Regions from separate parts of the Homo sapiens genome. Here region 1 is linked to region 2. Evidence: fine-mapped expression QTL. A gene starts in region 2. The other region holds a variant in brackets. All regions are shown on one strand. Distances are from middle to middle. Region 1 overlaps GLDC (glycine decarboxylase). Region 2 holds the start of GLDC (glycine decarboxylase).

Region 1 (8,713 bases), 52 kb before region 2:
ATTTTGGTGTATTATTTCTCAAGAAATGGGGGAGCAGGTAGTATCAGATATATATATATATATATAAAATTATACCTTTTTTTTTTTGAGAGATACAGTCTCACTCTGTTGTCCAGGCTGGAATGCAGTGGCATGATCATAGCTGATTGCATCCTCAAACTCCTGGGCTCAAGCTCATGCAATCCCCTTGCCTCAGCCTCCCAAGTAACTGGGATCAAGGACTCATGCCATCACACCTGGCTAATAATTTTTTAAATTTTTTGAAGACAGTGATCTTGCCATGTTGCCCAGGCTGGCCTTGAACTCTGGGACTCAAGCAATTCTCCCACCTCAGCCTCCCAAAACGATGGGATTATAGGTGTGAACCACCACACCTGGTCTCATCTATGCTTTCCTATAGATCACTATTTTAAACCATATTTAATGGCTGTACAATAGTCAAACATATGGATGAACCATGATTTAATCACTTTTTTTTTTTTTTTTTGAGAGATGGAGTCTCACTCTGTTGCCCAGGATGGAGTACAGTGGAGCAATCTTGGCACACTGCAACCTCCGCCTCCTAAATTCAAGCAATTCTCCTGCCTCAGCCTCCCGAGTAGCTGGGACTACAGGAGTATGCCACCACTCCCAGCTGATTTTTGTATTTTTAGTAGAGACAGGGTTTCACCATGTTGGCCAGGCTGGTCTTGAACTCCTGACCTCAAGTGATCCACCCGCCTCAGCCTCCCAAAGTGCTAGGATTACAGGCATGAGCCACTGTGCCTGGCCTATTTCTATTTTTTTATAGAGATGTGGTCTCGCTCTTGCCCACGCTGGTCTTGAACTCCTGGCCTCAAGCAATCCTCCTGGCTCAGCCTCCAGAGTAGCTGACATTACATACACGAGTAACCATGTCTAGCTCACTACATAGCAGCATTCTTCTGATTGCCAATGTAATGGGATAAATACTAGTTTATTGCTTTATTTTGTATCTCTTTCATTAATAATGAGGCTAAAATTCTATGTCTACTGGCCATTTATTTGTATACTTATTTCTTTTAAAATTACATTTAATGTCTTTTGCCTATTTTTCTATTAGGGTGTTCATCCTTCTTATGTTTGGGGCCGGTAGGAAAGTAAGAGTTCTACATATTAAAAATATCACAGCTTGCCAGGAGTAAAAGAGAAAAAAATATTAACACTCAGTCTAAGCCAGGCATGGTGGCTCACGCCTGTAATCCCAGCACTTTGAGAGGCCAAAGTGGACGGATTTCTTGAGGTCAGGAATTCGAGACCAGCCTGGAAAACATGGCAAAGCCCTGTCTCTACCAAAAATACAAAAATTAGCCAGACATGGTGGCGTGTACCTTAATCCCAGTTACCTGAGAGGCTGAGGCAGGACAATCACATGAATCCGGGAAGTGGAGGTTACAGTGAGCTGAGATCGTGCCACTGCACTCCAGCCTGGGAGACAGAGCAAGACTCCATTAAGCAAGGAAGCAAGCAAGCAAGCAAGCAAGCAAACAAGAAAGCAAGAAAGCAAGCAAGCAAGAAAGCAAGCAAGCAAGAAAAAAAGAAAGAAAGCAAGAAAAAGGAAATAAAAGAAAGAAAGAAAGAAAGAAAGAAAGAAAAAGAAAGAGAAAGAAAGAAAGCAAAACAACAAAATAATCATGGATGTTGAAAGTATTTTTCCTCGTTTCTCACTTGACTTTTAATTTTGCATATAGTATTGGACATGCAATATTTTCAATTTTACTCAAATTTATCAATTTTATTATGCCCAAATGTTTTAGACAGATTACCAACTCACCTTCTGACAAAATCAAAGTGGCATTATGTACCCTCCTAGCAATATGCTCCAGCCCATGGGAACCATGGTAGATTGCAAACATGGCAGCCATATTCGCCAAGAGGGCCTAAAAGATAAGAACATTTAAAGAATCACGTGATGGAGGACAATTAGTGGGAGGGTGTAATTACTTGACTTGGGATGTCAAAACTGAAGACAGCGACAAAACAAAATGATCAGATTTCCTACATTCTTTGATAGTTGGGGACAATTAATATATAACCTGCCTGACTACCTGAAAGGAACCATCATCCAAGACACCCTGGAGTTGTTACTATACTAAACCTTCACATTTGACCATTACGAAGGGCTTCTTCCATGCAACAAAATCATGTCACCCTTAAGGGCAAAGATCACACTACCATCAGACATTGAGAAGCAATGTTTAATGTTGGAAGACAGTGAAGCAATAAAGACCTCAGGGAGAAAAAGTGAGATCTGAGAATTTTACACTCAACCAGGCAATTCTTCAAGAATAAAAAGAAACAAGCAATTTTCAAACATTCAAGAACTTCAGGAATAAAATTCTCCTAAGAACTTAAATAAAACACTAGAGGCTGAACTTCTGCCAACCAAGAGTTGAATGGAGAATCTGTGGCAAAGGACTGGCAAAAACGGCAATGCGCACTTCAGCTGGGAGCGGGGTGGTGTGCAACTGTAGTCCCAGTGACTCCAGAAGCCGAGATGGATCACTTGAACCCAGGATTTCGAGGTTACAGTGACCTATGATTGCGCCACTGGACTCCAGCCCGGTTGACAATACAAAACCCTGTCTCTGCAAAATACAGTTGATGTTCAATACTGGGTCCATTTTGTTAGGTACATCTTTTTTTCTGCTAGACTACTAGAGGAAGTCTCTATGGAGCCAATGCAAAATAAGAAACAGTTTCCAAAGGTGAAGTCAGCAAACAAGGAAGTAAATGAGGAGAAAGAGACATCAGAAAACATGGAAGTAGGCATTCTTGTACTAAAAGTCCTAGACAAAGTGTAAACACTCTTATGGACTCCTTACAACAATCAGAAATAAACACAGAAACTCCACAGCACTTTACAGCTGTGGAAAAGGCGAGGCTGAGGTAAAGAATCTGTGACACACTGTGCCCAAATGCTCATGGCTGTGTTGCTGGAAACAGAAACCCAGGCCTGACATTCACAGAATGCCCTGGCAGCCTCCACCACAATATTGTAGAGGTTGGTTCATGTCCCTTTTTAATCTACAGATGATTCCTTCCATAATCAGGAGGCTATATCACACGGCTGAACAACAAATTGATGAGAAGTATAAAACCACTTTTTAAAAACTTCAAAGGGCACTAGAATATCAAAAGAAGAACCAAAAAAATTAAAATAGAGACCAAGAAAATGACAATTTCTTTCACAAATTGAACAAACTTAAAAATACAAAGGGCTTGAATCAGTGGCTCACGCCTGTAATCCCAAGACTTTGGGAGGCTAAGGTGGGAGGATTGCTTTAGCCCAGGAGTTAAAGACCAGCAAGAAGAACATAACAAGACCCCATCTCTAAAATAAATAAATAAAATAACAATAATACAATTAAGGTACTTAAAAGCCTCAAAAGCTAATGAATGCTCAAAATCATTAGTTATTAGGGAAATACAAAACAAAACCACAGTGAGATTATCACTTGACATCCAATAGGATGGCTATAACCAAAGGATAGGAAGTAACAAGCATTGGTGAAAATACGGAGAAATTAGAATATTCATATGCTGCTGGTAGGAAAGTAAAATAATGCAGCCACTTTGAAAAATGTCTGGAAGTTCCTCAAAATGTTAAATGTAGAGTTATATGACCCAGCAATTTCACTGCTAGGAATATAACCAAAAGAACTGAAAACATTACATCCATACAAAAATTTACACAGAAGTGTTCACAGCAGGCTTATTTGAAACACCCCAAATGTTTACCAATTGATGAATGGATAAACAAAATGTAGCATGTCCAAACAATGGGATATTACCCAGCCATAGAAAAGAATTAAGTACACATTCATGCTACAATATGGATGAACCTTGAAAACCTTATGCAAAGAAGCCAGGTACAAAAGGCCACACATTGTATGATCCCATTTATATGAAATATTCAGAACAGGCAAATCCAGGGAGACAGAAAGTAGAATAGTAGTTGCCAGGGGCTATAGGAAGGGGAGAGGGATGAGGAGTGACTACTTCATAGGAATAGAATTTCTTTTTGGGGTAATAAAAATATTCTGAAATTAAATACTGGTGATAGTTGCACAACCTTGTAAATAGAGTAAAAACCATTGAGCTGTATACTTGCAATTGGTGAAACTTACGGTGAGTTACATCTCAATAAAAAAAGCTAATAAAGTGTAAATTATTCTTTACTACACCTGACTTTAGAAAAGCCAACAAGGCTGGATGCAGTGGCTCACACCAGTGATCCCAACACTTTGGGAGGCTGAGGCAGGAGGATCGCTTGAGGCCTGGAGATCAATACTAGCCTGGGCAACAAAGTAAGACTCCCATCTCTATTTTAAAAAGATTTTTATATTAAAAATAAGAAAAGCCAATGAAAGAGCTGCTCATTGTGGTAGAAGCTAAGAAATAAGAGAATATATGGCCGGGCATGGTGGCTAACGCCTGTAATCCCAGCACTTTGGGAGGCTGAGGCAGGTGGATCATGAGGTCAGGAGATCGAGACCATCCTGGCTAACATGGTGAAACCCTGTATCTACTAAAAATACAATAAATTAGCCAGGCATGGTAGCAGACACCTGTAGTCCCAGCTACACAGGAGGCTGAGGCAGGAGAATGGCGTGAACCCGGGAGGCAGAGCTTCAGTGAGCGAGATGGCGCTACTGCACTCCAGCCTGGGCGATGGAGCGAGACTCGTCTCCAAAAAAAAAAGAAATAAGAGAATATAAAGAACAGAACATAATGAAAATTCAGACATCTGTAGTAATGCCACAAATTTATAGAAAAAATTGTTTCTTTTCCTTTTTGTTTTGTAGAGGTGGGGTCTGATTCTGTCACCCAGGTTGGAGTGCAGTGGTGTGATTGCAGCTCACTGCAGCCTGGACCTCCCCAGCTCAAGCACTCCTACCACCTCAGTCTACTGAGTAGCTGGGATACTGGTGTGTACCACAACACCTGGCTAATTTTTGTACTTTTTTTATATAGACAGGAGTCTCACTATGTTGCCTGGGATGGATTTAAACTGCTGAACTCAAGTAATCCTCCTGCCTTGGCCTCCTAAAGTGTTGAGATTACAGGTGTGAGCCACCGCACCCTGTTTTTTCAGTTTTGTTTTAGAATGGGGCCTGCTGAGCCAGAATAGGCTCAGAGAGACTCCCTATAGAAAAATTTATTTAAAAAAGAATCATTAACACACTTTCAGAGATTAAAAAAGAGTCATGCCCCATCCACGATGCGAAACTAAGAGTGGACTCCCCCACCCACCCCAGTGACAAGAGAGAAGAGCAAGAGTGAGAAGAATGTGGAACAGCTGCTACAACAGAAGGCGGGGGTCAAAGACCTACAGCACAAAAGGAACAACTCAAAAGACACCAGTCATCTCCTAACAAAACAGGGAGACTTGCATGCTCACAAAGAGTGAAACTGGAGTTATGAGTAATTCTTGTA[T/C]GCAATCAACTATGAAAAGGCACATATGCAGTGAAATAGACAGTGAAGAGTTAGAAGATCATCAGAATAAGAGGATGAAAATCAGACAAGCTGGAGTATGGCCATCTCCAGGGCAAACATTTTAACAATTGCTGGAAAAGATACAGACCTTTCAACCCAAGTTAAATAATAAATTATCAGCTATACATGAACTGGAAGAAATTAAGCAACAGGAACATAAGGCCGGGCACAATGGCTCATGCCTGTAATCCCAGCACTTTGGGAGGCCAAGGCGGGCGGATCACCTGAGGTCAGGAGTTCGAGACCAGCCTGGCCAGCATGGTGAAACCCCATCTCTACTAAAAATACAAAAAATATTAGCCAGGCATGGTCGTGGGTGCCTGTAATCCCAGCTACTCAGGAGGCTGAGGCAGGAGTATCGCTTGAACCCGGAAGACGGAGGTTGCAGTGAGCCGACATCACGCCATTGCACTCCAGCCTGGGCAACAAGAGAAAGACTCCGTCTCAAAAAAAAAAAAAAGAAAGAAACAGGAACATAACTGGTTCACTGCAGACAGCCCAAATTCACCTGGAAAATGAACCTAGAGGCAGAAAACTGAGGCCCTAAATGGACTTATGATCAGACGGAAACCTGGAGGAACCTGAGGAGAAACAGCAAGACAGGAGCAGTCAGCTGCACCGAAAGGGAAAACGTAAGCAGAGAATTCAACAAATGGAGGGTAAGCTACAGAAAGTGAGGCCACCATATAAAGATCACCATGTGGCCAGGCATGGCGGCTTATGCCTGTAATCCCAGCACTTTGGGAGGCCGAGGTGGGCAGATCATGAGATCAGGAGTTCGAGACCAGCCTGACCAACATGGTGAAACCCTGTCTCTACTAAAAATAGAAAAATTAGTTGGGCATGGTGGCAGGCGCCTGTAATCCCAGCTACTCAGGAGGCTGAGGCAAGAGAATCGCTGGAAACTGGAAGGCAGAGGTTGCAGTGAGCTGAGATTGGGCCGCTGCATGCCAGCCTGGGTGACAGAGCAAGACTCCATCTCAAAAAAAAAAAAAACAACCAAAAAAACAAATAAATAAATAAAGATCAGCTTGCTGTTCAACAGAGGAAAAGCCTGTGCCAACCACCTTTCCTTCCTATCATACTGGAAGAGCTCATATTTGAAAAGAGGTGGCACCTTCCTGAGGCAAAACATAATACAAAAGGACCAACTGAGGAAATGGCTCCAAAGACCCGTGGCTGCAGAACCAACTATAAGAAGATCTTATTGCCCACTGCCTTCCTGGAGAAGCTTTTCAGAGGTGGTTCTAGACGCCAAAGCCCTGAGACGAAAGAGCACTCTACCTCCCATTGAAGCACCTGTGACATCTCTCTCTGACACTTCATGGAAGAGATGCAATTACAGTGGCCAGGCACGGTGGCTCATGCCTATAATCCTATCACTATGGGAGGCCAAGATAGGATCACTTGAGCTCAGGAATTTGAGACCAACCTGAGCAACAAAGTGAGACCTCGCCTCTACAAAACATTTTTTTGAAAATTAGCTGGGCGTGGTGGAATGTACCCATAGTCCCAGCTACTTAGGAGGCTGAGACCGGAGAATAATTTGAGCCCTGGAGGTTGAAGGTTGAGGCTGCAGTGAGCTATGGCCATGCCACTGCACTCCAGAATGGACAACAGAGCAAGAATCTGTCTCAAGAAAAAAAAAAAAAAAGAAGCCAGGTGCCATGGCTCACACCTACAATCCCAAAATTTTGGGAGGCCCAGGCAGGACCATCACTTGAGGTCAGGCGTTTGAGACCAGCCTGGCCAACATGATGAAACCTGCCTCTACTAAAAATACAAAAATTATCTGGGTGTGGTGGCCTGTAATTCCAGCTCTTTAGGAGGCTGAGGCACAAGAATCACTTGAACCCAGGAGGCAGAGGTTGCAGTGAGCCAAGATTGCGCCACCCCATTCCAACCTGGGTGACGCAGGAACAGGACTCTATCTCAAAGAAGAAAAAAAAAGAAGAAGAAAAAAAAAAAGAGATGCACTTAGAATGGATCCTGTGCTCAGGAGTGGGCCTCCAACTGATCCTAGGGTTTGGCTGGGTTTCACAAACACTTCGACCTAAGCCCTGGAGCAACTTCAAGGAGCAGAACCCAGAACCCTGGTCAGAACCCAGGAAGCTCTTCCTGTTTTATCCCATCCTTTTAAAGAATGCCAGACATGGCCAGGTGCAGTGGCTCATGCTTGTAATCCCAACACTTTGGGAGGCCGAGGTGGGTGGATCATGAGGTCAGGAGTTCAAGACCAACCTGGCCAAGATGGTGAAACCCCGTCTCTACTAAAAATGCAAAAACTAGCCTGGCGCTGTGGCAGGCGCCTGTAATCCCAGTTACTCAGGAGGCTGAGGCAGGAGAATTGCTTGAAACCGGGCAGCAGAGGTTGCAGTGAGCTGAGATTGCGCCACTGCACTCCAGCCTGGGCGACAGAGTAAAACTCTGTCTCGAAAAAACAAAAAAAAGAATGCCAGTCATAATCTCCCAGTAAGAGTGCCTCATGACTACCACCATCCCCTCAAGCACAGTCATCACAAATGCCCTTGCTTTGCCTTCCTCAACCCATTCCTGGAGAGGCTCCTTCTCAGTCCTAAGAGAGGGTGTCTCAACTGCCACCCATAACAAACCTGGCCCAACGCCAAGAATACTAGAGACCCTGATATCCATCTTTCTATTTACATATATTTTAAGTCTGTATATAAAAGTGAAGACTGGCCTTTTTTGTCCTTTCTTACGCTTTGCCTGTTCAGGATCTGAAGATGTGATTATGGGTAAAATGAAACAAATAATGCTTTTTATTTTTTTTAGTATTAAAACATGTATGGTGAAGAGAAAGCATAGGCAAATGGTGTACATATAAAGAACACCAGTAAAACACAGTGTCTTTTTCTTTAACTTTTTTTGTGGGGGCAGGAGTTGGGGACAGAGTCTCCCTCTGTCACTCAGGCTGGAGTGCAGTGGCATAATCATGGCTCACTGCAGCCTCAACCTCCCAGATTCTGGTGATCCTCCCACCTGAGCCTCCCTAGCACCTGGGACTACAGGAGCATACCACCACTGACGGCTAATTTATTTTATTTTATTTTTCATAGAGATGGTGTTTCGCCATGTCGCCCAGGCAGGTTTCCAACTCCTGGGCTCCAGCAATCTGCCTGCCTTGGCCTCACAAGGTGCTGGGATTACAGGCATGAGCCACCGTACCCAGCCAATA
Region 2 (17,415 bases):
CTCGGCCTGGGGAACAGCTGCCACGGCCTAGTTGCCCCTGGGGTCAGTTCAGGAGAGTGCGCAACCCAACTAGGGTGACAAAGCCAACACCTGCAGCTGCATTACACAATGCTCCCTCCCTCCGCTCACTGCCCTCCATTAACCATTTAGTAGAAATCACTCTGGAACATTCAGCTGGCACAAGTCCATCATTCTGACAACTCATCTCCTCAGTTCTAGTTGAATAATGTGAACATTGGAGGGTTTAGTTTCTCCTCTCTCTTCCACAAGCAATGTGCAATTTTGTGTAAACTTTAATCCCTGCAGTTTATCTATGATTAGTTCAGTCTAGTTCAGTCTAGTTGCCTTGAGATGAATTCACTGAAAAGACTACACAGCGAGGCATACCATAGCTAAAAGTAACTGGCTTTGGTCATAAAGTAATTTTTAACTTTGAATTAATTATAAAATGAATACCTACACTGCAGAAAATTCCAAAACTGCAAAGTAATTAAAGGAAAGCTAAAACCACTAATAAGGGCACCATTCAGAGAAATCAGTGTTGCCAGTGACACATATCCTTCTAGTCCTTTTGTTGTTGTTGAGTGCGTGTGGATGGGGAATGCAGGATTCACTTGAGCAGGACAGGATTTTGAACTGAATAGCTTTGCTTGTTTCTCTGAATAATGACTTACTTAGCAGCCAGTTCATGATCAAAGTATTTTGTCAAGGCACTTTCTGAATTGTCCAAGAAGAGGGGGAGCATCCTTAGTGACTGATGAACCACCCGTCCTCCCCTGGTTCTGTCCGGCCATTCTGTCCTATACATGTTAATCCCACTACCTCCAGCAGCCTCCCCCAGATTTATCTAGCAGAGCATCACTGCTCATTCTTCAGTATTGCACTTCCGTGACCCCTTCCCTTGCCCTAGCAGCAGGCTTGAGTGTTCCCACGTCTGTGCTGCCAGGAAGCTGCTGCGTTTCCACTGGGGCAGTTGGCATATGGCAGGGTGATTCTAGTGCAACTGGGTTTGTGCACATCTGTAAACTGGATATTCCAGGTGAGTCAGGACAGAAGTTTTCCACTTTGTACACCCACGACCTTGCAAAGGACAAAATGAAGAGAGAGCAAAGTAGTGGATGGAGTGTGGACAGTGGAGCTGGGCTGCCTGGGTTTGAATTCTGCCTCCATCACTTACCAGCTATGACCTTGGGCAAGTCATGCATCATCTGAATATCACGGTTTCTTCATTTTTAAAACAGAAGTATTAATGGTATTTTCCTCATAGGGTTGTAATATACATTAATACATGAAAGCACGTTAAAGAGTGTCCAGTACATGGTAAGCACTACATAAATGTCTGAGATTACTGAGTTATGTGTAATAAGTAACCCAAGTATTTCCAAACTGATCACAATCTTTACTCTGCAATGAAGACATTTAACACTCCTATAACTAGCTCTCACTACAGTTTTCTCTGTACATGGCAAATAAATATTTAATCCAGAATTCCTTTCTGACTACACTAGAACACAGGCATTCACATGAAGCCAAGTTTGAGTAATGGTGCTCCACTATTAAATGGAAATGCTACTACCAGAGCTTACATGCACCAATTTGCTCTCCCCACCTGGAGAATATTCATTCACCATGACACGTGCACACCTCAGAGTCAAAATTCATCCTTTGCAGATGCATCCTCCTCCACTCTCCCAACACCCCCAGCTCACTATTCCAAGAAACAAGCTTTGTTGGAGAACTGGTCCATTTCAGGGAATGGGGGGACTTCTGATTGTGCAATATTTTCTGCGTGAATCATCCCAAACTAGATGGAACAAGCTCAAAATGTCACAGAAGCTGCTAGGTTTAAAATTTATATGGCATGGGCATGGTGGCTCATGCCTGTAATCCCAGCATTTTGGGAGGCCAAGGTGGGTGGATCACCTGAGGTCAGGAGTTCAAGACCAGCCTGGCCAACATGGAGAAACCCCATCTCTACTAAAAATACAAAAAATTAGCCGGGCATGGTGGTGCACGTCTGTAATCCCAGCTACTCAGGAGGCTGAGGCAGGAGAATGGCTTGAACCGGGGAGGCAGAGGTTGTAGTGAGTAGAGATCATGCCACTGCACTCCAGCCTGGGCAACAGAACAAGAATCCATTTCAAAAATAAAAATAAAAAATAAAAAAATTAAGTTTATATTCAAGTTGCAAATTACTTTTCAGGAGCCCACTTCCACAGTGAAGAATCAGAATCCCTTAATGTTCAAATTATTCAGCTGGAACCAAGAACTAAACTAAAAAAGGATACACAACTTTGCCATGTTTCCCAGGCTCTAATGCTCTGAAAAGAACACTTTATTTTAGAGTATATATATTATAAAAATAGCTAACCTAAACATTCCCTGACTTTGAAAGTCTCAGGAAGGGATTCACTTGTTCAAATATTCACCTAAAATACCCTGCTTTAAAGATACACAACTCTTCACTCTTCACACATCAAATGAATTAGGATTCTGATTTTTTCTTTTCTTCCTTTCTCTTTTTTTTTTAGACAGGGTCTCACTCTGTTACTCAGGTGGAAGTGCAGTGGAGCCATCTTGGCTCGCTGCAACCTCCACTGCCCAGCTCAAGTGTTTCTGCCACATTAGCCTCCGGAGTAGCTGGGATTACAGGCGCACACCACCACACCCGGCTAATTTTTGTATTTTTTGTAGAGATGGGGTCTCGCAATATTGCCCAAACTGGTCTCAAACTGCTGGCCTCAAGCGATCCACCTGCCTAGACCTCCCAAAATGCTGAGATTATAGGCATTTGCCACCGTGCCCAGCCAGGATTCTGATTTTCTAAAATGGAAATAGATAAGGCTTCCCTCCGACCATCCCTAAATCTCAATTAGTTCAATTCAGCAAAACATGCAGGTTTTCAACGACCATCAGATTTGAAACCAACAAAGGCAGCAGCCCTCAGCATAGCCTGAGCAGCCAACCTGAAGCAGATAGGCTCCATACCTCAAATGTCCACCTTCAAACAAAATAAAGCTTGCCATCTGCACACTAGATCCTTTCTATCATAGCAACAAAATAAAACAGCTGCTCTCTCTTCATTTGACTCTAGAAGAAAAAGAGATAAGTATCTCCATGATTGAAAGTGAGATAACCAGATGAGATTTTTTTTAAGAGCTCAGCCTGTGCCCTTGACTTATGGATTGTCCCCCCACCCCATGGAAGTCAAATACCCACATAAAAATACCCCTGAAAAGCAATCTTGGACCATTAAAAATATTTTAAACCTAAAATAAAATTCTAAGAAAGTCTATGACTAAACTGACCTTTCTTAAACAAATGTAAATCTTATTTGTGTGTTTTTCTAGAAAAACCATTCGGGGTAGGGCACAGTGACTCGTGCCTGTAATCCCAGCATTTTGGGAGGCCGAGGCAGACGGATTGCCTGAGGTCAGGAGTTCGACACCAGCCTGGCCAACATGAAGAAACCCTGTCTCTAATAAAAATATAAAAATGAGCCTGGTGTGGTGGTGCGCCCCTGTAATCCCAGCTAGTCAAGAGGCTGAGGCAGGAGAATTGCTTGAACCAGGGAGGCGGAGGTTGCAGTGAGCCGAGATCAAGCCACAGCACTCCAGCCTGGGCGACAGAGATTCTGTCTCAAAAAAAAAAAAAAAAAAAAACGAAAAAAAAAAGAAAAGAAAAGAAAAACCATTCGGACTCGAAAAGTACTGCTGTCTTTCAGTTGGTAAATAATAAAATTTGGACGTGAGGTAAGAAAACAATTGGAAGATACTGCGATCTAAAGAAGCCTGGGGGAGGGAGGCGAGATGTCTGGTCACTTCCCCAGTTGCACGACCTTAGGCAATTCCTAGATCCTTTGAGTCTATCCGGGTCTGCGCAGGTAATGACACCTCTCAACCCAAAGTATGAGAGCACCCTGGCCGGTGAGAGGGTGCCTGGGAAGTGGGGAATCTGCTACAAAACGCAGGGGAAGCTCGCGGGGGCCCTAGGATAAAGACCAAGAACCGCACAACACCGACTCTCTCCTAACACAAAACTGTCTGCTCCGAGAACCAAATATCCCACCTTCCCGCGGCTCCGGAGGTACCCGCCACTGTTTTATTTTAATCCACACATTCCCAGTCCTGAGCAATCCTTACCCCAGAGCTCGATTTTCAGGGAACCACAAAAGACAAATAGGCCAGAATAATCTAAGTCCAAGGGAGCCCTCCCGGCCACTTACAAACAGGGTCTTCCATTTTCAAGGGTCTTTTCAAACGGATGTTGGCAGGGACCGTCTTCTCGATCAATTCATCAATGCTCTAAAATTAAAACGCAAGGCAGAGGAAAGTGCCTCTGAGTTAAAAGAGTCACCTCTGTGTTTTGCGACTACAAAGCCTTGTGGGAACCTCATTGAAATCGCCTAATTAGGGTTCTTTTTAAAAGAAAAGGAAAACTCTGAGCAAGCCAGAATGATTTGGAGGAAAGAAAATCGTGAAGTGGGGTGGAGATTCCGCCACTCGGGGTTGGATTTCAGTTGCAACCGGAGCTAACCGGTAAGCCCACTCTTAATCAGGGGGTCTTCCTCCTCTTGCAAAGTTTAGGTCCATCCACAGGGCCACTTGGGCTGGGGGTGGTTTAAAAATGTACACTTTTGAGGCACGAAGACTGGGTGCAGGAGAAAGTAAGCTGTTAAGAAGTAAGAAGGCACGAGGACCAAAGGCACGAATTTGCTTCCACGCCACGGCCCGGGACCCAGGGTGCGGGGACCACGCGGAGCGCAGCAGAGCTCAGGGTAGGAGCCGGGAGGCCGCGCAGGCAGAGCCCGGGCAGGGCGGAGGGGAGGCCGCGGAGGGCCGGGTGGAGGTCCTTACCGCCAGCCCCAAGGTCTGCAGCATCTCTCTCTGGTCTTTGTCCCCAGGGCCGATGTGCCTCCGAGCGAAGTCGTCGTGTCTGGGCAGAAGGCGCTCCAGGAGGCGCGAGGCCCCAGCCGCGGCGCTGTCCCCGCCGCCACTGCTGCTGTCCCGGCTCCGCGGCGCCCAGCACGGCCCCGATCCCCCAGCCAGGCGGCGGCCGCCCCCGACCCCGCGGCCCAGGCGCAGCCCCCACGCCCTGGCACAGGACTGCATGGCCGCGGCCACCGTCCCCTGCCCCGGCCCGCAAGGGTCAGCCGCGCTCTTGGCCCCTCTCCTGGCCTCGGTCCCCCGGGTGGCGGCTGCGCCCGGCCTGGAGCCCCTTTCGCTGGACAGTCGGCCGGACAGATGGATGGACGCTCGCGGGCAATGAATGGGCGCTGCGCTCAACCAAGACACTCGCGCAAAGTTGTGGCTCCACCCAAGGCACCTGCTCCGCACACTTTAAGCGGCGCCCTGGAGGCGGGAGGTGGGTTGGGGCCAGGAAGCCCTTGGCCAATGAAAGTAGACAGAGGGGGAGGGGGCGGAACAGTTCCCGCCCCCGCCCCCTCTTCCTACCCTCTTCCCAGCCCTTCCGTGGAGTCCCGCTTCCCCTGGACCGGAGGCTGCCATCTCCAGTCCTACCCACTCCGACGCTGGCTGGTGCCGGGGGCCGGGACGCTCCGTACGCCGCCCGCCAGGGTGTGGAGCCGCACTGGGGCAAGATCAGGTGGGACAGCCCAAAGACTCCGGGCCAAGTTCCTGGGGGACTCGGCGGAGATGGAAGATGATTCTCGAAGCTCTCCATTTCCTTAATTTTGAGGTATCTTTCTCTGTCACATTTCATCTCAGGGAAATTAATATGGGCAGATGGCGGTTCTTTTATCTTTGCGGGAGCGTGATAAAGTTACTCAACCTCTCAGAGCTTCAGTTTTCTCATCTCAACAGAGCTGGATGGGATTTTAAAAAGAGATTATATGTACATGGAAAGCACTTGAACAGTAGATTTGAACACCCTCTCTATATTTCTTTTCTTTTCTTTCTTCCTTCTTTCTCCTCCTCCTCCTCCTCCTCCTTCTTCTCACTCTCTCTCTTTCTCTCTCTTCCCCCCCACCACATGTAACGCTATGGCTCACGCCTGTAATCGCAACACTTTCGGAAACCGACGCGGTAGGATAGCTTGAGCCCAGGAGTTCGAGACCAGCTTGGGCAGCATTGTGAAACCCTGTCTCTACAAAAAATACAAAAATTAGTGGGGCGTGGTTGCGTGCTTCTGAAGTCCCAGCTACTCTGGAGGCTGAGGTGGGAGGATTGCTTGAGTCAGGGAGTTTCAGGCTGCAGTGAGATGTGATCGCACCACTGCACTCCAGCGTGGGCCACAGAACGAGACTCAGGAAAAAAAAAAAAAAAAGAACTGTGTGTGTGTGTGTATATGTTTTTTTAAATATATGTACTGTATATACATATACGTGTGTGTGTAAAACTACAAAGGATATTTTGTTGTTGTTTTTGAGACGGAATCTCGCTCTGTCGCCCTGGCTGGAGTGCAGTGGCGCGATCTTGGCTCACTGCAACCTCCACCTCCCGGGTTCAAGCGATTGTCCTGCCTCAGGCTCCTGAGTAGCTGGGACTACAGGCACGTGCCACCACGGCCGGCCATTTTTTATTTTTATTTTTAGTAGAGACGGGGTTTCACCGTTTTAGGCAGGATGGTCTCGATCTCCTGACCTCGTGATCCGTCATTACAGGCGTGAGCCACTGCGCCCAGCAAAAGTACAAAGGATATTAAGATAGACATTGTTCACTGTCGTCTTACTTTGAAAGTTAGCCATCTAGAACTGGATTTTTTGTAAATGTACCATCTCCAGCTGTCTCATGACAGTTTTAGCAAGAGAATGAACTTTTAAAATTCCAGTTGTTCTAATATGGGGAAGAGAGGACAGAAGTAATCAGAACATTACTTGTACTTAGACTAGGGGAAAATAAAACCTGTTCTCTTTCTTGCTTATCTGCTAAGTTTCCTCCTCCAATCACCCTTAACAGATTCTGGGCTCCGTACCCAGGAGGCACAGACTATCCAGAGAGGCAGGAAAGTAGAGATGGAAAAGAGGGCAGGAAAATACACCACAAAGAACAGTAGGTAAAATGTCTGTATGGCAGACGGAGGCGGGTGGTGAGCTAGGACGGCTGGGCTGAATGTCTCCGAAAAGTTTTTCGGCCATTTGGAATTGAAATTACAACCTTCATAAAAGTTGGGAGATCTCCTCAGTGCCAGATGGTGGGGGTTGTGGGGAAGGATTGGAGGGAGGAGGTAATCTGCATTTATTCCTATTCCTGTCTATGTTGTTTCTATGTATCAGAGGGACTGGAAGCCAGGGAACAATAATTCCCAGATCCCTTTGGCTCCGTGGTGATGGATGTTATTTGCCTTCTGCCAAAAAAAAACATGTATATATACACACATATATGTATATGAGAATTGGGGCCGGGTGCGGTGGCTCACTCCTGTAATCCCAGCACTTTGGGAGGCCGAGGCGGGCAGGTCACTTGAGGACAGGAGTTCAAGACCAGCTTGGCCAAGATGGCGAAACTCAATCTCTACTACAAATATGAAAAAAAATTTAGCCAAGTTTGGTGGGCGTGCTTGTAGTCCTAGCTACTCAGGAGGCTAAGGCATGAGAATCACTTGAACCTGGGAAACAGAGGTTGCAGTGAGCGGAGAGCGCACCACTGCACTCCAACCTGGGTGATAGAGCAAGACTCTGCCTAAAAAAAAAAAAAGAGAGAGAGAGAGAATTGGGAAATGGAACAAAGGTAAAAACTGTTTTCTTATTTTCTGACTGCAGCAGACAGATGCATGGACCACTGCAGACATGACATGCTTCCTTACCAGCACCCCATCTTGAGGTAGCTGGGAAGCTGTATCCACCAATGGGAATGTCCTGCAGTTCCCCAGCAGGAATTTCTGTGTACTAGACTAGAGCTTCAGTGGTTGACCTGAAGATAGCGTTGGTATTCCCTGGTTTTTGCTCTTCCAGTTCTTCCAGTGGTTTTGTATGCACCCATTCCTGACATTTAATTCTCCTCTGCTTGAAATGCATTGAGTGTTTTTTGTTTATTTGTCTGTGTGATGTTGTGAAATACATATCTGGTATTCATCCCATTTCCTGGCCTGCAACTCCTAAAGTCTTGGGAATCTCCAGACTCCTGCCTTTTTGTATGCTAATGTGACTAACAGCTTCAGAATAGGGCTGGTCACTGGAAAGACAAAGACATAATGGGAGTTGAGACTTTCAGCCCCACCCTCAACTTCTCAGTAGGGCAGAGGGTCAATGATCAATGCTTAATCAATCATGCCTTCCTAATAAAGCCTCTATAAAAACCCAAGAGCCGGACGTGGTGGCTCATGCCTGTAATCCCAGCACTTTGGGAGGCCAAGGCTGGCGGATCACTTGACGTCAGGAGATTGAGACCAGCCTGGCCAACAGGGTGAAATCCCATCTCTACTAAAAATACAAAAATTGGCCGGGCGCGGTGGCTCACGCCTGTAATCCCAACACTTTGGGAGGCCAAGGTGGGCGGATCACAAGGTCAGGAGATCGAGACCATCCTGGCTAACACCGTGAAACCCCATCTCTACTAAAAATACAAAAAATTAGCCGGGCGTGGTGGCGGGCACCTGTAGTCCCAGCTACTCAAGAGGCTGAGTCAGGAGAATCACTTGAATCCGGGAGGTGGAGGTTGCAGTGAGCCAAGATCATGCCACTGCACTCCAGCCTGGGCAACAGAGGAAGACTCGGTCTCAAAAAAAAAACAAAAATAACACACACACAAAAACCCAAGAGGAGAGGTTTCAGAGAGCTTCTGGATAGCTGAATACACACAAAGTGGCACATGGGGAGAGGCCATGGAAGGTCCTCACCCCTTCTCCCATACCTACCTCGCCCTGCGCATCTCTTCATCTGTGTTACTTGTAATATCCTTTATAAAAAATCAGTAGACATAAGTGTTTCCCTGAGTTCTGTGAGCTATTCTATCAAATTAATCAAACCCAAAGAAGGGATCATGGAAACCCCAGCTTCAAGCTGATCCGTCAGAAGTTCTGGAGGCCTAGAATTGCAACTGATGTCTTGGGGACTGAGCCCTCAACCCTTGGGATCTGGCGGTATCCCTAGATAGAGTGTCAGAATTGAAGTGGAGTGCACCCAGCTGGTGTCTGCCTCAGAACCGACTGCTTGCTTGTTGGTGGGGAGAAATCCCCATATATTTCGGGATCATGGAAGTCATCTTCTTCTTTCTGTTTTTCCATTGAGACAGAGCCTTGGTCTGTTGCCCAGGCTGGAGTGTAGTGGTGCGATCTCAGCTCACTGTGACCTCGACCTCACAGTTTCAAGCAATTCTCCTGCCTCAGCCTCCAGAGTAGCAGGGACTACAGGCATATGCCACCACACGCACTAATTTTTGTGTTTTTTTTTTTTAGTAGAGATGGAGTTTCCCCATGTTGGCCAGGCTGGTCTCAAACTCCTGACCTCAAGTGATCCGCCCACCCTGGCCTCCAAAAGTGTTGGGATTACAGGCATGAGCCACCACGCCCAGCCAGATCATGGAAATCTTCTGTGTTGATTGTTGTAGTGTGGTGTGAGACCAGAGGAAGCACAGTTATAGTGCTTTTTCAAAACAGTTAGTTTTCCTGAATAAACCCAAACAAAGGCTATAATGGAAGCCAAAAGCAGATTGAGGAGGGCTTAATGTTTGGGTGAAAAAGGCAAGAGATTCCTGAGAGACACATTCACTCCCTGCCATTGTATGAGCTTTCAGGGAGTTTTTTCCTTTGCCTCCCCCTTTTCTTTTTTTTTTGAGTTTTGCTCTTGTTGCCCAGGCTGGAGTGCAATGTCCCGATCTCCGCCTCCCAGGTTCAAGCGATTCTTCTGCCTCAGCCTCCCGAGTAGCTGGGATTACAGGCATGCGTCACCACGCCCAGCTAATTTTTTCATATTTTTAGTAGAGACGGGGTTTCTCCATGTTGGTCAGGCTGGTCTCAAACTCCTGACTTCAGGTGATCCGCCCGTCTCAGCCTCCCAAAGTGCTGGGATTACAGGCGTGAGCCACCGCACCTGGCCTGCCTCCACTTTTGTTCCTCCCCTGCCCGTTCTGCTCTAGCACAAATATTTTGTCCTGAGCCAGCTTCCACCTCTTATTCAGAAGTCTCATCAGAATACTTTTCTTTTTTTTTTGAGACAGAGTCTCACTCTGCTGCCCAGGCTGGAGTGCAATGGCGCAGTCTCAGCTCACTGTAACATCCGCCTCCCGGGTTCAAACAATTCTCTTGCCTCAGCCTCCCGAGTAGCTGGGATTATAGGCACCCGCCACCATGCCCAGCTACTGTTTGTATTTTTAGTAGAGATGGAGTTTCACCATGTTGGCCAGGCTGGTCTCGAACTCCTAACCTTGTGGTCGGCCTGCCTCGGCCTCCCAAAGTGCTGGGATTACAGGCATGAGCCACCACAACTGGCATTCATCAGAATATTCTTATGTAAAGTCTAAAAGAAAGAAGACTTAAAAATAAGAAGAAAAAAGCAAAGAGAAGAAAAGAAAAAGAGAAGAGGATGAAGAAAGTGGACAGTAATGTAACAAACTTGGTGACATTTCGGGAACCATAGCCCTTGAAATGAATAAAGGGGCCAGGCACGGTGGCTCACACCTGTAATCCTAGCACTTTGGGAGGCCAAGGTGGGTGGATCACCTGAGGTCAAGAGTTCGAGACCAACCTGGCCAACGTGGTGAAACCCCATCTCTACCAAAAAATAAAAAAATTATCCAGGCGCGGTGGCACACATCTGTAGTCTCAGCTACTTGGGAGGCTGAGGCAGAGAATCGCTGGAACCTGGGAGGTGGAGGTTGCAGTGAGCCGAGTTCACCACTGCACTCCAGCCTGAGTGACAGAGTGAGACTCTGTCTCAAAAATAAATAAATAAATAAATAAACTTATATATGTGCAGTTGACAATGGTCTTTTTACGCAGAGCTATACATATAGAAGTTGTTCATGGGGCTGAGCATGATGGCACATGCCTGTAGTCCTAGCCGGGACCCAGGAGTTCTAGACCAGCCTGGGGAGCCCAGCGAGACCCCATCTCAAAAAAGTTGGGGGGTGTTGATGTAGACCCTAGACTTGAACAGTTTACAGGTGTCAAATTGTCTGATTCCAGAATTGCTCTGAATTCTGGCTATGGATAATATGGCATAAATTCAGATGAACTTCTTAGGCACTATGATGAAATTGGACCATAAGTGAAATTTTGGAATTAATTGGAAACCCTTCGTATCCATGAGGTCTTGGGGGTACTGCTCCAGGAGTCCCAGCTATTTAAAAATTTAAAAATTAAAAAAAAAAAAAAAAAAAGGCTTGGCATGGTGGCTCAGGCCTATAATCTCAGCACCTCAGGAGGCTGAGGAAGGAGCATTGCTTGAGACCAGGAGTTTGAGACCAGCCTGGGCAGCATAGCCTGGCTGTCTCTACAAAAAATTTAAAAATTAGCCAGGGCTGGGCACGGTGGCTCATGCCTGTAATCACAGCACTTTGGGAGGCCAAGGTGGGTGGATCACCTGAGGTCAGGAGTTTGAGACCAGCCTGGCCAACATGGTGAAACCTCATCTCTACTAAAAATACAAAAATTAGCCAGGCATGGTGGCGAGCGCCTGTAATCCCAGCTACTCAGGAGGCTGAGGCAGGAGAATCGCTTGAACTTGGGAGGTGGAGGTTGCAGTGAGCCCAGATTGCGCCACTGCACTCCAGTCTGGGTGACAGAGTGGGAATCCATCTCAAAAAAAAAAAAGCCGGTATTGTGACACATACCTGTGGTCCTAGTTATAATCACACCACTGCATTCCATCTTGGGCAACAGAAGACTCCATCTCTTAAATGAGAAAGAAATCGCCAGGTGCAGTGGCTCACGCATGTAATCCCAACACTTAGGGAGGCCGAGGTGGGTGGACCTCTTGAGGTCAGGAGTTCAAGACCAGCCTGGGCAGCATGGTGAAACCCCATCTCTACTGAAAATACAAACATTAGCCGGGCATGGTGGCAGGCGCCTGTAATCCCAGCTACTCAGGAGGCTGAGGCAGGAGAATTACTTGAACCCAGGAGGTGGAGGTTGCAGTCAGCCAAGATTGAGACACTGCACTCCAGCCTGGGCAACAGAGCAAGACTCCGTTTCAAAAAAAGAAAAGAAAGGGCTGGGCACAGTGGCTCACGCCTGTAATCCCAGCTCTCAGAGAGGCAGAGGAGGGAGGATAGCTTGAGCCCAGGAGTTCCAGACCTGCCTGGGCAGTATAGCGAGACCCCATTCTCCGCAAAAAGGAAAAAACAAAACAAAAAAAAGACAAAGAAAGAAAGAAAGAAATCTTCGAACTTGGAATGGGAACATGTTTGTAGCTTGGAATGAATTTTATTATCTTGAAACCCCAAATCCCACTGAGTCTCCTTTGATAGGTAAACCCATTCCTCCTGCCCTCTTTCATAAACTGGCAATACCTTGCATGAAGATCCTGTAATGACTTCGCTAAAGGCACTAACCTTGCAATGGAATGTCAATGCTTCTTTGCTTTCAGATCCACAACCAGAATCAGATCTTAACCATACCCCAAGAAGATGAGTAGAACATTTGACATCAGAGGAGAAGCTTACACAAGGAAAGAATTGCAAAATGTTGCTAATATATATTATCACCAGAGGGTTTCTATGGGAGTGGATTCTAAACCAGACAAAAAGGAATATAAAATTGAAATTATTGATTTATTTGTAGTACGAGAGATTCTGGATTCAGTGTGTTAGCTCAATCAGCCAGGAGTGGCTTTTTAGTTTGCTGAGTTGATTGATGAAATCATACTTAACAGTGCCTTCATTAAATTAGGTTAAGATACTAGGACTTCTGTCCGGGCACAGTGGCTTGCACCTGTAATCCCAGCACTTTGGGAGGCTGGGGAGGGTAGATCACTTGAACCCAGGAGTTCTAGACCAGCCTGAGCAACATGGTGAGACTCCTGTCTCTACAAAAAATATAATAATTAGCTGGGTGTGGTTGCATGCCTCTGTGGTCCCAGCTATTCTGGGGGCTGAGGCAGGAGGATTGCTTGAGTCTGGGAGGTTGAGGCTGCAATGCGTCATGATTGTGCCACTGCACTCCAGCCTGGGTGACATGTCTCCAAAAAAAAAAAACCTGTCTCAAAAAAAAAGAAATCCTAGAACGTCCTTGGAATAATAGAGAAGGATCTAAGTCTTGGTGAGAAAGGAATGTTGAAGTAGATTTGTCATGAGTAACACACTCTTCCGCACTTTCAGTGTATCCCTCAGAAGAAACCAGAGGACAATCCCTTCACCAGAGTATTGGGAAGTCCATTGGTAAGAGCAGCACCAGTGTTTTTGAAAAGTCCTGTGGCTGCGGTCCTCTACAGATATAAGATGGTGGTACACAATGGAACTGTTGAGATGGGCTCCTTGATTCTAATGTTAATGATGGAATCCTGGAGTGGTAGAAGCCAAGTGGCAGCACTGGTCAATGGAGATGAGCAACGTTGTCATAATGGGCAGTGGATCAGAGGGGTAACCCGTCAGGTGATCCACGGGGATCTTTGGTGTTCACAAATTGATGGGCAGACTACTAAAGATGTAACTTGATCTGGTGAACAAAAACTTGATATAAGTCTCCAAAATTGAGAGACCCAGCTTTTCAACCAATTCCCTGACTTCAGAGAGTTCACAGACCCAGATGAAGGGGAGGTTGAAAAAGGACTCTTGAAAAAAGATCTTACCAGGCTATGAGAATATACTATAAATCTTCCTTCTGAACTCCCTCAAAGATACCTGTGGCCATTTACTAAGGACACAAAAATACCCAGGCATCTTAGGTTACTAGAACATAAGATAATGGTAAACCCTACATATCTAAAACCACTCTGGGCTGGACATAGGAGACTGAGGCAGGAGGAGCACTTCAGCCCAGGATTTTGAGGCTTCATTGAGCTATGATTTTGACAATGCACTCCAGCTTGGGTGACAGAGCAAGACCCTGTCTTAAAAATAAATAAATAAAAATAAAGGCTAGGCTCACGCATGTAATCCCAGCACTTTGGGAGGCCAAGGTGGGTGGATCACTTGAGGTCAGGAGTTCAAGACCAGCCTGGCCAATATGGCTAAACCCCATCTCTACTAAAAATACAAAAATTAGTTGGGAATGGTGGCATGTGCCTGTAGTCCCAGCTACTCAGGAGGCTGAGGCACGAGAATCTCTCGAAGCTACTAGGTGGAGGTTGCAGTGAGCTGAGATCGCACCACTGCACTCGAGCCTGGGCAACAGAACAAGACTCCATCTCTAAAAAAAAAAAAATGAACAAATTGAAAATCAATAAATTTTTTTGACACATTAGGTAGGAACACGTAAATGGTAATATTTTTGATAAATTAAGGAAGGCTGAGTGTGGACAGGTTTGAGGGGGATGTCCAGAGCTTGCTTCATAGCAAAAGCTTACTCTCCGAAGGAAGGGACTGTGCCAGAGCTTTATCCCAGCTGAGGAATGGAATGCCTCGTACTCTAGCCTCCTCCAGCCTTCTTGTCTTACATAATGAAGGAAAAATAAAAGAAAACAGAATAAACGGGTCAGGGCTGAGAGGAAATCAACCAGCGACTCTGCAGCCAGAGAACACAGGACAGAAGAGAAAGGAACTATATCACTGGAAAAACAATTGTGAAGTTCATAGCCCAAGACAGAGGGCTGTGAAAACACCAGTATTTAATTGGAACATTATAGAACACACCCTGTTTCCAAAACTTAACTACAGCACCAGCAGGGCTTTCATAGTAACAACTGAAGGTGCTGCAATACACAGACTGCCCCTGAGGAAGAGTACCGTAGACCCCCTTATTTGTGGTTTCGCTTTTCATGGTTTCAGTTACCTGCAGTTAACCACCTTCTGAAACCATAAATGGAAAATTCCAGAAATAAACAGTTCATAAGTTGTTGGGTTTTTTTTTGTTTTTTTGTTTTTTGACACAGTTTCACTCTTGTTGCCCAGGCTGTAGTACAGTGGCGCGATCTCAGCTCACCACAACCTCCGCCTCCCGGAGTCAAGCGATTCTCCTGCCTCAGCCTTCTGAGTAGCTGGGATTACAGGCATGCACCACCATGCCCGGCTAATTTTGTATTTTTAGTAGAAACAGGGCTTCTCCATGTTGGTCAGGCTGGTCTCGAACTCCTGACCTCAGGTGATCCACCCGACTCAGCCTCCCAAAGTGCTGGGATTACAGGCATGAGCCACCGTGCCCAGCCAACAGTTCATAAGTTTTAAGCTACATGCTGTTCCAAGGAGCATGACAAAATCTCACACTGTCCTGCCCCATCGCGCCTGGGATGTGATTCATCCCTTCGTCCAGTGTATCCATGCTGTTTATGCTGTGCACCCTCAGTCACTTCGTAGCTTTCTCAGTTGTCCCATTCTCAGATTGACCATCAGGATATTGCAGTGTTGTGTTTTACTTAATAATGGCCCAAAATTTCAGAATAGTGATGCTGGCAATTTGGATATGCCACAGAGAAGCTGTAAAGCACTTCCTTTAAGTGAAAAGGTGAAAGTTCTTGACTTAATAATATGTACACCATGGAATATTATGCAGCCATAAAAAAGAATGAGTTCATGTCCTTGCAGAGACATGGATGAAAAAGGCGAAAACTAGTCAGGTGTGGTGGCATGTGCCTGTGGTCCCTGAAACTGGAGAGGCTGAGGTGGGAGGATTGCTTGAGCCACAATCACACTACTGCACTTTAGCCTAGTGATGGAGCAAGACGGAGGCTGGTCTTGAACTCCTGGGCTCAAGCAGTCTGCCCACCTGGGCCTCCTAAAGTGGCTGGGATTACAGGCATGTGCCACCACGCCCAGCTAATTTTGTATTTTTAGTAGAGACGGGGTTTCTCCATGTTAGTCAGGCTGGTCTCGAACTCCCAACCTCAGGTGATCCGCCAGCCTCGGCCTCCTTTAAGTGCTGGGATTACAGGTGTGAGCCACTGCATCCGGCCTTATTTTTGTATTTTTAGTAGAGACAGGGTTTCAGCATGTTGGCCAGGCTGGTCTCAAACTCCTGACCTCAAGTGATCTGCCTGCTTCAGCCTCCCAGAGTGTTGGGATTACAGGCGTGAGCCACCGCACCCAGCCAGAAGTGAAGTTTCTATATGAATGTCAATGTTATTGCACTAGGTTTAATGCCATGCTGTGACCTCTCAGATTCTTTTACTAAAGATGAGATATGACATATGCAGATTCTGGATTCCTAATAAAACAGCCAAGCAGGACTAGCTCCCAGGTGATACTTTCTTTCCCAAGAGAAGCAGAATTATAAAGGATTTAGATGCAAGGTTGGTACCTTAATATTCTTTCCTGGCTGGCTAAGTGTGAAGTGGGGAAGGAGGGAATGGAGGGATACAGGGGCCCTGTCCAAAAATATCACTTCCCACTATAAGCTAATTAAAGATACATTTGTGTTAACTAGTTTCTCCTTTGAAAGCAATTACTGCCATGCCAAGCCTCATTAACAACTCAGTATGACTTCCTTTAAAGAGAAAATCCACTCAGCTCTTAACTGGCCCTGTGAGTGTCCAGCTAGAGTCCTTGGATTTATCGAAGAGCAAATTTATGAAGTAGATACTTCTTCGTTTATTACAATTAAAGAGGAAAGGCAGATTCGAAAAGATAACTGTGGTCACAGGTGGTAGAGAAAATGCACTAGAGGAGGACCTGCCTTCAAGTATCTCATTGACCAGCACAGGATTGTGAAAGGACAGAAAGCCAAAGACTGATTCAAAGCCCAGAGGCCACTAATTTACTGTTAAGGACACACGGGCAATGTGCATAGAGCATTTGCTTCCACACCTGGCTATTACTTTGTGTGTTTGTGTGTGTGTGTATCAGGATTTTAATGTACAGCTGGCCGGTGACTCAACACAACCCCATGGCTCTGAACTGTCTCATTCAAATTGTAAGTTTCACGCATAAATAATAGGTACTGCTCTTTCTATAGATCCAATAGAAAATACTCTTTTTTTGGTTCTAGCTCTTTTCCTTGAAACTTTATTTATATTTAAATTTTTTACCCCCAGGCCTGGTGGCTCATGTCTGTGATCCCAGCACTTTGGGAGGCCAAGGCGGGCAGATTACCTGAGGCTTGGAGTTCGAGACCAGCCTGACCAACATGGTGAAACCCCCGTCTCTACTAAAAATACAAAAACTAGCCGGGCATGGTGGTGGGCATCTGTAATCCAAACTACTCAGGAGGCTGAGGCAGAAGAATCACTTGAACCTGGAGGCGAAGGTTGCAGTGAGCTGAGATCGCACCATTGCACTCCAGCCTGGGTGATAGAGCAAGACTGTGTCTCAAAAACAATACTGTTGCCCAGACTGGAGTGCAGTGGCGCGATCTCGGCTCACTGCAACCTCCGCCTCCCGGTTTCAAGCGATTCTCCTGCCTCAGCCTCCTGAGTGGCTGGGACTACAG

The links.
Region 1: its variant is fine-mapped to the expression of GLDC in whole blood (TOPMed, PIP 0.97).

The regions. Positions count from the first base shown.
Region 1 is chr9:6,593,222-6,601,934 of GRCh38, forward strand. It overlaps GLDC (glycine decarboxylase), which reads right to left. Exons shown (of 25, transcript NM_000170.3): 9 at 1,793-1,898. Among named protein-coding and RNA genes, the nearest start is that of GLDC, 48 kb to the right of the region's middle. RefSeq lists an enhancer at 5,227-5,466. The variant T/C (reference allele first, on the strand shown) is at 5,458.
Region 2 is chr9:6,640,389-6,657,803 of GRCh38, forward strand. It overlaps GLDC (glycine decarboxylase), which reads right to left and starts at 5,341. Exons shown (of 25, transcript NM_000170.3): 1 at 4,857-5,341; 2 at 4,226-4,304. The coding sequence starts at 5,111. RefSeq lists enhancers at 4,551-5,108, 6,089-6,198, 6,249-6,348, 7,335-7,890, 7,891-8,446 and 2 more and silencers at 4,789-4,858, 4,899-5,098, 5,169-5,418.